2 separate regions of the Homo sapiens genome follow, and region 2 is linked to region 1. The links come from fine-mapping of genetic effects on gene expression. A gene starts in region 1. The other region holds a variant in brackets. All regions are shown on one strand. Distances are between the middles of the regions.

The links.
Region 2: its variant is fine-mapped to the expression of STX7 in whole blood (TOPMed, PIP above 0.99).

The regions. Positions count from the first base shown.
Region 1 is chr6:132,511,770-132,514,692 of GRCh38, reverse strand. STX7 (syntaxin 7) reads left to right here and starts at 1,577. Exons shown (of 10, transcript NM_003569.3): 1 at 1,577-1,686. RefSeq lists enhancers at 1,271-1,470, 1,828-2,329 and a silencer at 1,621-2,110.
Region 2 is chr6:132,456,738-132,459,613 of GRCh38, reverse strand. STX7 (syntaxin 7) reads left to right here. Exons shown (of 10, transcript NM_003569.3): 10 at 1-2,876. Among named protein-coding and RNA genes, the nearest start is that of STX7, 55 kb to the left of the region's middle. The variant T/C (reference allele first, on the strand shown) is at 1,307.

The DNA of each region.
Region 1 (2,923 bases):
ATCTCGCAAATTACTATTTCTGAAAATCCAAATTACAAGCTTTCAGTCATAGGTAACTTCTGCACATGGAAATGATTTATTTTGGGAGATGTGACATTATCACTCATCAAATTAGGAGACTTTTAAAGCCCTACCACTTTCAAGACACCTGGCTGAATTTAACTTGGTAGCAGCCAGATTCACAGATGGAATACTGTGTCAGGAACTCTTAGTAATTCATTTATCTTAATACTTCTAAATTTTGCAAGTTTGTCTAGACTATAATTCTTTTTTTTCCCATTTGAATACCAAAGGATGAAATCTTATTCTAAGTTTTCAAAAGACCTGGAAGGAATCCACTCATAACATATTTTAAAACAAGGAATTGGAATGAGCCCAAGATGAGGGCTCAGACAGCTAAGTTTTGGGCCCAGCATAGTCAGTAACTATCAGGGTAACTTGAAGAGGCCACTTAATCTCAGGTTCTTCTGTAGTGCATTGTACCTTCCCTCCCCGGAGCCCAGAGTTCTATCAAAGGTAATATGAATGGGTATTTGGAAAGTGCACTAAACCTCACATGGATGTAAGATCCTTTCATGTGTTCCTTCAATGATTGAAATGTTTCTTCCTACGTTCACCAGCCACTTCCTAATTCTCAAGTACAATGCACTACTTTCAGTTCTTTATTTACTTGAACTTTGTGTAACAGGTGACATCATGGACAATTCCCTCCTTTTTTCCTTCATTCTCTAGTTTACCTTTTCCTGGTTTATTTCCTATCTTGTGGGTTACTCGTTTTCAGGGTTATTCTTTCTCTGTCCATCTCTCTTAAGCAGACAACATTCCACACTTAGTGTTGGTGAGTTCCAATCAGAATTCTATCCTGGGTTTTGTTTTTTTCCACCTAAGTGCGTCTGGACTTTTGATATCACCTATCCGGGTAATCATTTTAGAAAATAGTGTTGCCTTAATATAGGCAAAGGCTAAGCCAATCTATCTTCTAATTAATTTGGAGAGGGCTTTCTTTCATTTGTAGCAATTGATGCTTTTCATCTAACAATTACAATATATTTGCATATTTATCATTGGAACTGTCTCTGCTTGTTTTAAACCCTGTGAAAACTACGCCCTGCTTTTCAGGAATGCTTAGAATGACTTGTATGTACTAGGAAAACTTGTTTACAAGTGAGCACCCAGAGATGACTCTTCACTTATTCCTTCATTGTTCCTGCTAGGATTGTGTACTCGCCTTTGCATTTTTCGATAGAGCTGTCAACGCGATCTACTGCAGTTAAAGGTTAGCAAACAAGACAGGCAAGAGCTAATGGGGCGGGGTGAAGACCCGCGTGCAAGAAGGCTGGCTTCACCAGATAAAGAAGACAACTGTCCTCCATTCTGTCCTTTTTTGCACGCAGGCTAAGAGGCGTTCACCATCTCTACGTCAGGCTTCAAAGAACAGCTCCCTTGCAATTTTGCTGATACCCCCATTCCTTAGCTTGGAACCGGAGGGGCGGTGAGGGCCGCTGTCACTCAGCCCCGCGGGCCAATAGAAAAGGGGTGAACCCCGCCTTCTTCCTGAGTTGTGCTGCGGGCATGCGCACTGGGCGTCCCCACGCCACCGCCCATCAGCTGAGAATTGCAGCTGAGGGCTCCGGGGTAGGTGGGTGACGGCGGTCGGAGGTGTAGGAGGGAGCCGTGGAGGTCCAGGTAAGAGGACCCTGGGGAGGGGGCTCCCTGGCCGGGCGACAGGGAGGCGCGGTGCCCCTGCGGCTGCTGCGCCTTCTTGTTTGTGCGCGTGGTCAGGTGGCCGCCGCCCTGCGCTCTGCAGCAGGCACTCGGGAGGCTAGGAAGGGCGGGACTGCCCCAGCTCCCGGAGCGCCTGCGGCTCCCCACGCCCCCCGGCCGGGTGCAAGGGCGCGGCGCGTTCCGCATTCCGGGTGCGCGCGGCTGTGGTCAGGTGGGCCTACCCAGCCACGCACCCGCCGCGGTCCCCTGGGCAGAGCTCCGGAGGCGCACGGCTGGCGGAGCGCACCCCGGGGAGGGCGCCAGAGCCGGCTGGGGCCCAGCTCAGGAATCCAGACACGACCAAATGACCTCTTCCTCTTTTCAACTCACGGATTGAAAAACACACTAAACTTCCCGAATATAGAGGAACTGAAAAATGTATGGCTGTAGCAGGCGAACCGTGTATGTTTATTTATTCAGAGGATCGTAGTATTGTTTTTTTAATTTGGCTTGATGACTTTAACATACTTTGACATTCTTTGAGTATACACCTTTAATTAATTTACATAAAAACCTTTAAACGTACATAAAATATTTCTAGTATTTCCTCCACCTTGTTTTCTAGTTACTTTCTTTAAATTCAGACAAAGAAAAAAAGTTGCATTTCTGATCAAATGCTGTGTGTTTTTTCCCACAAATTTCTTACATTTGTTTGGCTCTTATCTGTATACGTTAATTTTTGTTTACCTCAGATCGTTGTATTCTGACTATAATTATATATAATATATAAAACTTGCCCAGAATCTGGAAGAAAAGAAAGTAATTATGAAATGCTGTGCTATTTAATAATGTTGGAAGTGGACATTTCTTCTGCAGGTTCTCTGAGCACACCTGGGCAGAGGCTGATAACGGTGTTAAACTGTGTTTTGTGTTGTGGACAGGCCTTATAGGCTACTTTGAGAAGTTGGCCTCAGACTCGTGACTAGTTAAGAATTATGCTCTTAACTTCACAGTTTCTGTAGAGGTTAATATGATACCATATTAACTGATTAACATCATAATTTTTCCTCAGATATGTTACTTATGTTGCTCTTGATAACAAAATCAATCCTTATTTTGGTTATGACCCCAAACTTTAAGTGCTGATGATTGAAAAGTAAATTATAGAAAATATTCACAGTAAGTCTGAGTGAAGTTTGCTGTGATTCCATTTAATTTG
Region 2 (2,876 bases), 55 kb after region 1:
GTGTTTAACTTGGCAAGCTCTGAGACTTCAAATGGGAACAAATAGTAAGTAGCTAAGTAAACCACATCTTTGCAACCAAAATAAAGATGAGTTAAAAGGTATCTGGTTAGGCCTATTTCATGAGGACTATGCTCTGGTGGGACCACAGGTCACCTGATACTTAGTGCTGTGCTGCCTGAAACCTCAGCATGGAGACATCACCACATGCACTGTGGCCATTCAGCATCTTTCTGGAGCACCAGTTCACTCCAGGTTTTTATTTTAGGGTGTCATCGATTTTACCTACTTTGTCAGACTGGTAGAAGTTGCTTTGCATATCAGAAAAACTCCATTTTTTTCCACAAAAGGGATTACAGAAAACTCTTTTGTGAGTGAGTGATTGGAACTTAGAGACTCCTGTTGCCAGAATCAGACTGCCCTAGAACAGAATGGACAATGCAGGGAGGAGAATTCACACAAACAGCACCTGTTCTGAGGCCTGTGCCAGCCCACCAGGCCTGCTCAAATGTGGTCTTTACTTCAAGTGCACAGAGGCACATGAGGTTTCTGGTGATAAACCAGCGTCTTACCGCTGTTTTAAAGTCCCATCCCCATGGCTTTCACAATCAGTTCCGTTTTTTTTGCTGTACTTGATAAAATGTTTATTCTCATACAGGTCAAGTACATTTACTTCTATTCACAGTGAGTACCCAATAACAACAAAAGCGCTTACAAATTTGGGGGGCGTGATTTTAGTACCTTTATTTGAAGTGTAATCATTTTAAATTATTATTATTTTAACTGGGGCAGTTATCAGTGGTTTAAACAGGAACTTTAGTGGCTTCAATTTGTTTAAGAAACATATTAAGTTTGAGGGAAAAATTTCCCATGAAATATTTGGAACGTAAGAGTAGTATTGATTAGAGAAAATTAAATAAGAAACATAGTATGGTAGCCAAATTTTTTAAAAAATCTTGAACTTTTCTGTAGGTCAGTTTTAGAACTGCTGTGAAAAGTGAAGGTTGCCCTGTGGAGATTAAAATTAGAGTTGTTTTCATAACTGACAGCATGGTGAATCCATTTGAGTCAAAGTGAAGAATTTCCTCATCAAGTGACTATACATTTGTTTTTGTGTGCTCAAAAGAAATACTCAAACACAGACTGATATTAACCAGCCAGGTAAATTGAACGACAATGTGGCATTAGGTATTTGGCTGTTTATTGGTCGTTAAATACTATGGTTTTGCAATATGATTGATGGTAAAAGAGTGATGTCATATTGATACTAGAGTAGCTTGTTTTTTTAGTAGGTGTGGGACCATCTCTT[T/C]TACAAGTGCAACTCAGTCTAGGACAGCCATGGATGCAGTGTCTGGAGTTGGACCCTCTGAGCCCGCTGGCTGCCCCAGTAGCATCTGCATTGGTGACCAAGGACACTGCACTTTGAAGAGGTCGCCACTGGGTTATTTAGTGTCTTCACTGCTTTTGTTAAAAATTGTAAAATTTTGTACACAAAAAGTTGTGTTTTTGAATATCAATTGTTTAGACACACCTACAATGATAAATAAGTGCCTTTAAAGGCCCCTCTTTCCATGAAATACATCTGTGGTTTAGCAAGGAAAGTACAAAATAGTTTATGTAGTTGGTATAATTTTTATTTGTGTCTTCATGTAGAAAAAATGAATGTCATAATAAAATATAAAACTTACGTAAAGAAAATAAAGTCATTGTCCACCTTAATAGCTAAGGTCCACAAGGGTAACTTATGCAGCATTTATTTTTTTTGAAAGTCAAAATTGAATTTATTTCTTTCACATGGCTGGTTTGCTGCAATATGAAGTTTCAGAATGGGCTGAAGTAAGTTGATTGAGGGATTTGAGTTGAATGACATTTTCAAGTTCATTTAAATATGATAAAAATTCATTGGTGGTAAATAACATCTGTCTTTCCTGGAAAAAAAAAAGTTGTGTATTTTCATGATTCAGTTAAAACAAAAAATGAGCCTGTGAATCCCAGGCCTTTTTAGTCCTCCATAACATTTGAACAGTTTGACTTGTCAGCAAAGAAATACACTTATCAAATTTTAAACCAATGGGAGCCTGAAAGTGTTACAGTGTACTGCTTCTTTGACAAAATTCTGTTTAACAACTACCCTAACATAATTTATAAATCAATTAAGATAAAACCATTTTTTTCTGAGTATTTAGGAATTTGTGTCCTCAAAATACTGTGACATGAAAGATAGGAAAGAAATTACCTGGTTGCCAGACATGCACGATTATCTTTCCTCATTTCAGCTGGATTTTCCAAAGTCAGTAGATTGGATAAAGCAGCATCTCATTCACTGAGGTCACAAGATAGGTAGGAAACTTCTTTAATGTGAATTTTGCATATTTTAACAATTCAGTTAGAAAAACAGAAACCACTTGATGGATTATAAGTGTAAAGTGTTTTAACATAGGGAATTAGACATCAAAAGGGTGGGTGAGGAAGGTGTCTGCGGCCCCAAAGTGGGTGGATCTCAGGAGCTGGCCCAGGCACTGCTGTGACTCTTGAGAACATCCAGAAGGCTGTGCTGTTGGCGTGCAGCACTGACAGTGTGTCTCAGGGAGCTGTCCCCAGCTGTCAGCTGTTAATAGCTCCAAAGCCAGTGCCTTGCAAGAGATTTTGAAACTGCTGTGAAACTCATGTCCTCTGCCCGCCTACACTTCTGTCTGCAGTGGCCTCTGAGGAAAGATGGTCTCTCCTTTTCTCATGGTCAACTCTCAACTTAGAACCAGAGACAGAAGGAGTTTGTGGGAAGTGTGGTTTCTGGTCTACCTGCACTGCAGAGGACATTCTAGAAAGAGAAGTGAGTTGACAGTCTAGCATAATTGTGAAACAAACACTGAGATGTACAG